Regions from separate parts of the Homo sapiens genome. Here region 1 is linked to region 2. The links come from fine-mapping of genetic effects on gene expression. A gene starts in region 2. The other region holds a variant in brackets. All regions are shown on one strand. Distances are between the middles of the regions. Region 1 has its middle 88 kb from the start of LINC00954. Region 2 holds the start of TTC32 (tetratricopeptide repeat domain 32).

Region 1 (5,379 bases), 120 kb after region 2:
TGGTACAGCCTCCCTCCCAGCTTCTTTTATGAGCTGGTGTTGAGTGTCTGTGGCTTTTTTGGGCACGTGGTGCAAGCTATAGGTGGATCTACCATTCTGGAGTCTGGAGGATGGTAGTCCTCTTCTCACAGCTCCACTAGGTGGTGCCTCAGTAAGGACTCTGTGTGGGGGCTCCAACCCCACATTTCCCTCCTGCACTGCCCTGGCAGAGGTTCTCCATGAGAGCCCTACCCCTGCAGCAAACTTCTTCCTGGACATCCAGGTATTTTCATACATCCTGTGAAATCTTGGCAGAGGTTCCCTAACACCAATTCTTTACTTCTGTGCACTGGCAGGCTCGACATCACTTGGAAGCTGCCAAGGCTTGGGGCTTGTACCCTCTGAAGTCATGGCCCGAGCTCTATGTTGGCCCCTTTCAGCCATGGCTGGAGCAGCTGTGACACAGGGAACCAAGTCCTTAAGCTGCACACAGCAAAGGGACCCTGGGCCCGGCCCAGGAAACTATTTTCTTCTAGGCCTCTGTGCCTGTGATGGGAGGGGCTGCCTTGAAGACCTCTGACATGCCCTGGAGACAGTTTCCCCATTGTTTTGGGGATTAATATTGGGCTCCTCGTTAAGCAAATTTCTGCAGCAGGCTTGAATCTCTCCTCAGAAAATGGATTTTTCTTTTCTATCGCATTGTCAGGATGCAAATTTTCCAAACTTTTATGCTCTGTTTCCCTTTTAAAATTGAATGCTCTTAACAGCACCCAAGTCATCTCTTGAATGCTTTACTGCTTAGAAATTTCTTCTGCCAGGTACCCTAAATTATCTCTCTCAAGTTCAAAGTTCCACAGATCTCTAGGGCAGGGGCAAAAATGCCATCAGTCTCTTTGCTAACAGTTCCCAAGAAGTTCCTCATCTCCATCTGAGACCCCCTCAGCCTGGACCTTATTGTTCATATCACTATCAGCATTTTTGTCAAAGCCATTCAACAAGTCTCTAGGAAGTTTAAAACTTTCCCACATTTTCACGTCTTCTTCTGAGCCCTCCAAACTTTTCCAGTCTCTGCCTGTTACTCAGTTCCAAAGTTGCTTCCACATTTTCAGATATCTTTTCAGCCACACCCCACTCTACTGGTACCAATTTACTGTATTAGTCTGTTTATGTCTTCTGATAAAGACATACTAGAGACTGGAAAGAAAAAGAGGTTTAATTGGACTTACAGTTCCACATGGCTGGGGAGGCCTCAGAATCATGGCGGGATGGGGGGCAAAAGGCACTTCTTACATGGCAGCAGCAAGAGAAAATGAGGAGGATGCAAAAGCAGAAAGCGCAGATAAACCCATCAGATCTCGTGAGACTTATTCACTACCACAAGAACAATATGGGGGAAACTGCCCCCATGATTCAAATTATCTCCCATTGGGTCCCTCCCACAACATGTGGGAATTATGGGAATACAATTCAAGATAAGATTTGGGTGGGGACGCAGCCAAACCATATCATTACTATACCCTGGGAGAGTTACTAGCAGGAAGAGACAGTCCACCACAAAGACACCTCCATTCTGGATGGGAAGACTGAATCTGCTAGTACAAAAAGTTTGCACAGTTTTGCAGCTAACTTCCATGACTCTCATTTCTCATGTGAGAATCCTCTACTTCTCGATCTTGACATATCCAATGACCTCTGAGGCTCACCCGGTTAATCTCAGAGCCTTGACCTTTTCCTGTGGCTCTTTAGAATGAGAGAAGAGCTGAGTGCAGTTTGCACTCTCCTTCACATCTTTATCAGTAAACATGCAGGAAGCATCACCGTGTCTAGGCACCACGGAGGCCACTGTGCCCCAGGCAGACACAGGTCTTCCCTCTATAAGCCTGAGGTGTGGCAAGGTCAGCAGCCTGGAGGAGTGAGAAGCAGGGTGTGAGGGTGTAGGGTGAGGCCAGAGAACTGAAGAGGACCCCTACCCTAATCCAGGAGGTCACGAAAGGCTAGCATATCACCAGGGAGCCCAGAAAAGGGGCAGAGTGTTTTGCAGCAGTGGGAACAGCAGAGCAAAAGTGCCTGGACAAGAACAGGCATGGTGGGTTCAAGAAACTGAGAGATTTAAACAGCTGGAGCTCTGGGGGCCAGGGAGAGAGTGGTCTATATGAAGTTGGAGAGGTAGGCAGAGAGTACTTTATCCTGTGGGAAGCCCTCTCCTCCATTCCAGTCCCCATCAGAAAGAAGAGCCCATGAAGGTAATGCCAGCTGGCAGTGAGCACCAAAGACAAGGACGAAAAGCTACTGCCTAAATGCACAGGTGATCTGTTGCCATGGGCATTGCCTTGGGCTCCCCAACTACTGGTCCTAAAGCCATGAAGCAGAATCTGTCTATAGGGCCAGCTGGCATCCTCCTTCCACAGCCTGTCATGGTAAGTACCAGATTTATCTCCGACCCTACCTCTAGGCATCTCAAGCACCCTAATGGGAAGAATTTTTTTTTTTAAATAAGGCCAAAAGCCAGCTTTTAATCTATGAATAGAATCCTTTCAATCTATGGGTACAATCAGCTTCTCCATACCGTTTTGCCCACCCACCCCCATTTTCTGTTTTCCCCTTAATTATATCTAAAGTTATGTAAGGGTTTCTCCCAAATACAATTTATGGAGAGTTGATTTTGGAAATGAATTCTGTTTGCTCAGATAAGGGTAACCTGGCAAAGAGACA[T/C]TGAGAATAATCTTAAAATTGGACATTTTGTGACCTGTTTTTTGCCTAGAAAAACTAGCCTGATTCAGCTCCATTTAGCAGATGGGTAAAGAGAGTCATGTTGCCTTGAATCCTTTCTGTGCTCACGGAGGTGGCCCAGGGTGTGATGCCCTGTCCTTTGCTGGAACCTCCTCTAGACTGAAGCTCATCCCATATCTTGTGTTTGTGATCAGCACTTCCAATCCTCTTTGCCCTGAGTAGTATTTGATTGTAGAATAGGGAGGAGGGAAGCCCAGGTAAGGGCCCCTGTGAGCAAAGGTGTGCGGGCTGGAAGGGATTGGTGTGTCAGGAACAGTCAAGAGGCCAGTTTGCTGGTGCAGAGACACATGTAAGGCAATAGGGAGATAAGGAAGGTGGAGGCCAGATCCCAGAAGGCCTTGAATTGCAGGCTAAGATATTTGGACTTTATCTTCTGGGTAACAAGGAATAATGGAGGCCTTTAAGGAGAGGGTGACAAAAGTGAAAAGGTGTGGGCTGAGAGCAGTGGCGCTGTGCCTTCCTACCTGCAGGCGTTGCTGTGGGGTTGGGTGATTGTGAACTGGGCAAATACCTCAAAAGTTTGAACAGGCGTCCCATGCCCCAGGGTCCAACTATGTGCCAGCAACTCCTAAATTCTTCCATTTTCTGAATTTGAAACTCGCATGACAGTTGCCTTCTTAGCATCTCCACTTCGAAGTCTCACAGGCTCAAACTTAAGAGGCTCCAAAGGAAGAACTTGCTATTCTCTCTCAAACCTGCTCCACCTCAGTCTCAGTCTCAATAAATGGCATCTCTAATTGCCCAGCTACTCCGCTGGAAAACTGAGGCATCATCCTCCCTGCTTCCCCCTTGGTTGTCCTCATACTCATTCATCACCAATTCTGTTGATGCTATCTTCAAATATTTTCAAACTTATCCATTTCTTTACTATGGTCCCTACCTTAGCCTAGCTGCCATCATCTCTCTCTCGAACTTCTCTGCAACTTACTGATCTCCTTGATTCTATTTTAGAGCCCCATCCAACCTACCGTCCCCAAGCAGCCAGACTGATGGTTACATAAATAAATTGTCATGTAACTTCTCTGTGTAGAGTCCCTTTTTGGCTTCCCTTTGCACGAGGACAAAATGTGCAGCCCTTGCTATGGCCTCCAAGGCTTCATTCTGGTGGTCCAGACTCCTCTTTGACCCCCTCTCTTGCTGCTCTTCTCTTTGCAAATGATGCTTTGTTCCACGGCTCCTTTCAGGGGCAGGATCCTCCTTTTGGCTTTAAGGTCTTTTTGCCTTGAGCCACGCTCTCCCCCACACCAACCCTACTTGTCTTCACATCTCAGGATAAGTAGCATTTCTGCAAGGGGCTTCCATGACACCCTAATCCTGAGCAGTTTTTCTGTTGTTGTCCTCTCCTATAGAGACCCGTTCTTTTCCTTTGAAATCCCGATCACACTTTGTGGTTCTTTTGTGCCTCCTTGTTTAAAGCCTGTCTGCCCCACTAGACTGTAAGCTCCCTGAGAGCAGGGAGCACAACTGTATTGTTCATTAGTGCGAGTTGGAGCCTGGTTAGTGCCTGACATGTGGGACATATTTACTAAATAGTGAATGATTGAATGAATGAATGGTGCTCTGCTACCATTCTGTGATCAACATGATCCTTCTCTCATATCCCAAGATTTTGTGGGCAGGGGAAGGAGGAGCTGAAGGTTGAGGATGATGGCTCGGGAGACAGTGATCACAAATAACTTACCATTGCTCAGCAGGAAGGTGCTGGGTCTCTAGCCCACACAGACCCCTAAAGACCCCTTTAGTACCCTGTGATGGAAATGGCATCTAGGTGCTCTCACCAAAGTCCCTCTTCACCTGCAGCCCAGATGCTGAATTACCCAAATGATTCAGGGGTCAAGGGCTCACTCCCAGTGGCTTATGGAGAAGTGGCTAAGCCTGTACTCACCTGTTTTCAAACAGCAATTCCCATCTTTGTATCAGGAAAGTAAGTCCACAGAAGGCCCGTGTAGGCTGTCAAAAGAGTAAGTCCATCAACCATGCTTTTTCTATTATGACTTGAGATTCTATCAATTTTCTAACTTGTGCATATGGATAAATTCATATTAATAATAATAATCAGAATTTTACTAACCTTCCCATCTGTTTATAGGGTCTTGACTCCCTTGCAAAGTTTCCACTGAATATTTCTGGATTCCCCTGGATGTCTCTTGTGTGCTCCTGAGCATGTCTGGTAGCCACTTTGTGCTTCTGTTTCTTCCAGGAACTGCCTCCCCATCACTGAGTTTCCCTCCCACCATGGGGTCCTGGCATGCCATCTGAACATGGCTTTGGACTCTGTTGTCATCTTCTGTGGGCTCCACAGTCTCCCGTGGTCACTCCTGCTACCTGACTCCTCTCATCAGGAACTGTGGTCCTTGTTAGCTGCAGCACTGATGCGCAGGGGCCCTCCTAGCCTGAAACTGAAGGCTGGCCTGTGCCCTTTCCAGTTACCAGCTTGTCTTAAAAAGTTTAAAGACAACAGACATAAATCTGTAGGACTAGATGGGGAAGAGATCTGAGGATCAGAGCCAGAGTACATTCAGAATCACTCCTTTGCTAAGATGTGGAAATTTCATATCTAAGTCTCCATTGCTGAGTCTTGCCTTAGGATGAATTCTCTTCCCGAAAGAA
Region 2 (5,379 bases):
TTATAACCATTTTTTAAATGGAATCTTAAGAAGGACTGGTGTTGGTTCTTCCTTAAACATTTAGTAGAATTCATCAGTGAAGCCATCAGGTCCAGGGCTTTTCTTTGTCAAGAGGTTATTTTTAGATTACTGATTGAATCTCCTTACAAGTTACAGGTTGATATGGTTTGTGTGTGTCCTCACCCAAATCTCATCTTGAATTGTAGCTCCCATAATTCCCACATGTTGTGGGAGGGAGCCGGTGGGAGAAAAAACTGAATCATGGGGGCAGTTTCCCCCATACTGTTCTCATGGTAGTGACTAAGTCTCACAAAATCTTATGGTTTTATAAGGGATTTCCCCCTTCACTGTTCTCTCATTCTCTCTTGCCTGCTGCCATGTAAGACGTGCTGTTTGCCTTCTGCCATGATTATAAGGCCTCCCCATCCACGTGGAACTGTGAGTCCATTAAACCTCTTTTTTCTTAAAAACAAAAAAATTACCCAGTCTTGGGTACGTCTTTATTAGCAGTGTGAGAACAGACTAATACACACGTCTATTCATATTTTCTATTTCTTCATGATACAATCTTCGTAGGTTTTTTGTTTCTAGGCATTTGCTCATTTCATGTAGTTACTCCCATTTTTCAGCATACAATTGTTCATAGTACTCTCTTATAATCCTCTTTATTTCTGTAGAATTGATGGTAATGTTCCCATTTTCATTTCTGATTTTAGTAATCTGAGTCTTTTCCTTTTTCGTAGTCAATTTAGCTCAAGTTTTATTAACTTTTTTAATCTTTTTAAGAACCAACTTTTGGTTTTGTTGATTCCATTTTTGTTTTATCTGTGTTTTGATCTTTTATTATTTTCTTCCTCTGCTAGTTTTGTGTTTGCCATTTGTTCTTGATATTTAATGTTAATAAATGTTTTACTTTTTAATAAATCTGTTAATATTCCAACTGTTTTTTAATATAATTCCTTTCCTTTGTAATCCTATGTTTTAAAAACACTTGAAAACATTGAAACGACATAGGCTTCACCACACTTGTAAAGGTGCCATAGCACAAAAAAGGTTAAGAATCTTACTCCTATTTAGAAACCCCCTTCCCAAATCCCCAATTTCCATTACATATCCTGCTATTTTCCTCTTAGATCACTGGTTTTTAGACACATAAATATTCCTGTTATTCCTTGAACAGAACAAAGCAAAACTTCTAGTCAGGTGCGGTGGCTCATGCCTGTAGTCCTAGCACTTTGGGAGGCTGAGGTGGGCAGATGTCTTGAACCCAGGAGTTGGAGATCAGCCTGGACAACATGGGGAAACCCATCACCACAAAAAATACAAAAATTAGCTCACTGCCAACCACTTCCACCCAGAAGGGATTCTTGTGCCTCAGCCTCATGAGTAGCTGGGATTACAGGCACCCGCCACCACGCCCAGCTAATTTTTTGCATTTTTAGTAGAGACGGGGTTTTGCCATGTTGGCCAGGCTGTTATCAAACTCCTGTCCTCAGGTGATCTGCCCGCCTAGGCCTCCCAAAGTGCTGGGATTACAGGCATGAGCCACAGAGCCTGGCCATCTCCACTTTTTCTTATCCCCCAAAAGGATTAACATCCCTGGCTTTATGTAGAATAGTGTACGCTGCCACATCAGTGTTTGAGTCATTCCCCAGAGGAGAGGGGAATCCCCCCTCCATTTTTTTTTTTGCAACATCTTGTCTTCCCTTTGCTGTTGCTTCCCCCAACACACTTGGTTTTGTTCTATCCTGTACTTCAGATTTGTTTTTTGTTTTGTTTTTTTCATATTGAAAAGATGACATTGCTCCAAGAGGCAAAAATAAATGGGAACTGAAAAAAAAAAGCTTTTTATCTTATTTATTTAATCTTTTAATTCACCTGGAATGAATATTATGTCAATTGGGAGCTTAAATGCTTAAATGTATTTTTCCCCAAATGGTTAACTAATCCTCCCAATAGCACTCATTTGAATAATCTGTCCTTTCCCCATATATGTTACATGTCTTTTACAAAATACAGCCTATTTGAGGTATGTTTCTGGGCTTTTGTTCTATTGAGCTGTCCATTTGCTTACACCAGAAATGCCAGTTTATTTTTTTGTAGTCTTGCAATCTTTTAATTTCTACTAGTGCTTTTTAATTTAACCTTAATCCACTGTATTTGTATTTTTTTCAGTGGTGGTAAAAGGAAAAAATTAAAAATCTAATGAAAGCAGCCAAAAGCACACAATTTATGTCCTGTTAAGACTTCCGCATGTAAGTATCATGCTCCAAATATATTTTTCATCTTTACTTTTTATGACGGAAAGGGCTCAAGTACTTTGGGAAGCAAAACAGAATCGAGGGACGCCGAGAAGATACACAGCAGGCATGTAGGGTAGCGTGGTTGGCAACTGTTCTTACAAAATTTTAATTTGAATTATACGTAATGTACGTAATAAATTACTATTTGGATTTCCCTTTGGCATAAACAGCCAGGGAATATAACTAACATCAAAGATCCCAGACTCTCGACACAATATACTACTAATCGTAACACAATTCTAGAGGGTCAAAAAAGGTAGAGAAGTTTGGACCGTGGAACAGACCTGGTGGAATGTCGACACAAAGCGTTTCAGGGTAGACAAAGCCTACTCAGAACACCCTAAACGCGGAGTTTTGCTAAGTTGGGACGCTAAAAGGCAAGGGAATGACAGGACGTCCGCAGGCTAATTCGCCATTAAGAAACAGAACCGCGGCTTCTTCCACCTCCAGCGTCATCGGCCCCCAATTCGCTGTAACAAACGGATAGTGTCTCGCAGCATCAGACAACGGACTTGGAAATCAGTTTGCGACCACGCATCTGCGCCTTTTCTAGGAAAAGAGGAAGGCGGGTCCAACACTGGTAACGGCAGAAACATAGTTCACAAGGGCCACTGCAAACGCCCCGCCAGCAGCGGAACCGTTATCTCGCGAGACGACGGATCCCCATAAGGCACAAACCTAGCGCCAAGGTTGGCTGTCAAGGTAGATTCCAGGGTGTGGAAGTGGCTTTGTGGTGCCACCTCTAACCGCTCGGAGGTCAACCCCCATTCTACACCGAAAACTAGGCCTTGGCTGCTATGGAAGGACAGCGGCAAGAAAGCCACGCAACCCTAACACTCGCCCAGGCTCATTTCAACAATGGAGAGTACGCGGAGGCCGAGGCACTGTACTCCGCTTACATTCGCCGGTGCGCTTGCGCGGCCTCCAGCGACGAGAGTCCCGGGAGGTAACTATCGCGAGACCTGGGGCCGCGGCGACCCCGGGTGGAGGCGACGTTGGGGTTGTTTGGGCTCCTATCTTTGCCTCTGGAGCTCACGGTCGGCGCTTGTCATAACCCAGCACTAGGACTGAGCGGGCGGACGTTCGTCTTTCTAGAAAGGCCTAGGCGAGGCCTAGGACGAGGGCGGCGGAGAACGCGGGGAGAAGCCCACCCGTGAGGAGCCAGCTGCCGCGACGGTGCGGAGAGATTTCCGGGAACCAAGCCCTCTGCGCGATCCTCGGGCGCGGGCCGCCGCCTCTCACCCCGCCGTCTCTCCTTCCACGTTCCTCATTCGCACCCAGAGACTTAGGACAGATAGGAATTTTCCACTCGTGATTTTAGCTGGCGGGAAATCCGCGACCTGGGAAGGGAAGGGGTCACGGCTGCGTAGGGCCACAGTACCGCGACTCCCATCTCAGTGTCACGGCGCAGGCTCTTGGTGGTGTTTTTCACTTGTGAAAAACGTTTAAATATGTGGAAGAGAGCATAACGAACGTCTAGGTGTTTATCACTTGGCTTAAGCATTATCAGTTTACCTATTGTATTCATCCATGGATGTTTCAGAAGGAACCACCATGTCATCATCACATAGTTACTTAATATCAAGTCGTCAGTGTTGGAACCATTCTGATCGACTAATAAGGTGTTTTGTTCTTTGGTTCCCTTTTCGCAGTTAGTTCAAGTCAGGATACACATCAAGTCTTTTTAAGTCTCTTCTCCACCTTCCCCTCTTTATTTGTTGAGGAAACCGATTCTTGTGTCCTTTGAATTTCCGTGTTTTGGACTTGCTGACTGAATCTCTTCTGTCGTTTAATGTGGTCATCTGTCTCATATTGCTGTGAATTGGTGGTTAAACCTTGAGGTTTGATCCAATTGAATTCAGATTCAATATCATGGCAAGAATACTTTTTAGGTGGGTGTGTGTACTTTCACCAGGAAGCACATAACGATTCGCTGACTTTCTCTTTGTGATGTGAGCGGCTTCACCTGTTACTGTCTGCTTGCCCAAAGCATCTTTTCGGCTTGTGCCTGGATGTGTAGCATTTGTTTTTACTCCAAGTCTTGCCTCGACTGGGCTTGTTGATGGTATGGAGTGGATCAGGATGAGAAAAGAACAGAGGGGTTGGTTGAACAGCTTTTTGAATAGTTGTGAGTTGTCTGTTGTGGATTTGAGTTTTCTGGACAGGATGCCAGCTTGTCTTTTGTATGAGGCTTAACTAAACACTAAGGACTTGATTCTTACCCTGTTTGTTACGCTACATGGAATTAAACCAGAAAGAAAATTGCCTTCTCATTTCAATAACACACAAGAATAATAATAGAAGTTTCTGAACAGGCAATAAGATGATACCATCTACTTTCCTCAGTGCACCTCCCCCATAAAAAAGATAAGTAAACATAGAAAGCGAAACTATTCATGTTTCAAGCTCTAAGAGTAGACTTACCTAGTAGATTTTAAAAAGTATTTATCAGCATCAGGTATGCTGTTGCTGTCTAGTCTTGTTATTCTTCCTTCTTTGCACCTCTCAGCCTAAGAACACAAGTGTCTGTAGCATATATAATAGCTATGCCTTACCAGCACAGGAAAGACAGTTTGTCATAGCGCAGTAGAAGGGAGTTCATCATGCCTGAATTCCAGTCTTGGCACTGCCACATGGCTAATGTCTCAGCCTCAGTTTTTCATCTGTAAAATAAGCTTTTGATAAAATTCTAGGAACTCAAGGATTGAAACTGAATTCTGTCATTTCAACTTTTTCCCTTCAATTTATCTTTTGGAGCTTACATTTATTTTCTAAGTATTGGGTCACTAAATCATTTTGAAACAATATTTGCAATTTTTGAATGCCTTTCATTCTGAATGGTTTGTGACGTTTTCTTTTAATATCTAAAGTATAGCTTTAGTCATAAACCTAATTTCCAAAGTGTGTGTGTATATATATACACACACTTTATATATAAAAAATATATATACACACACTTTATATATATATAAAAAATATTTTTTTTTGCGAAAGTTAGCAAATCCTAAAAATTCACATTTGGGTTAGGTAACTTGAATGAATTCCATTATAATAAATACTATCATTACAAAAATTT

The links. PIP is the estimated chance that this variant, and not a neighbour inherited with it, causes the effect.
Region 1: its variant is the best candidate, but not a certain one, in a credible set for the expression of TTC32 in lymphoblastoid cells after a statin (CAP, PIP 0.75).

What each region holds. Positions count from the first base shown.
Region 1 is chr2:19,778,040-19,783,418 of GRCh38, reverse strand. No RefSeq gene overlaps it. Among named protein-coding and RNA genes, the nearest start is that of LINC00954, 88 kb to the left of the region's middle. The variant T/C (reference allele first, on the strand shown) is at 2,692.
Region 2 is chr2:19,899,576-19,904,954 of GRCh38, reverse strand. TTC32 (tetratricopeptide repeat domain 32) reads left to right here and starts at 2,972. Exons shown (of 3, transcript NM_001008237.3): 1 at 2,972-3,249. The coding sequence starts at 3,101. RefSeq lists enhancers at 2,620-2,859, 2,249-3,129, 3,310-3,409, 3,490-3,549, 3,690-3,879 and 1 more.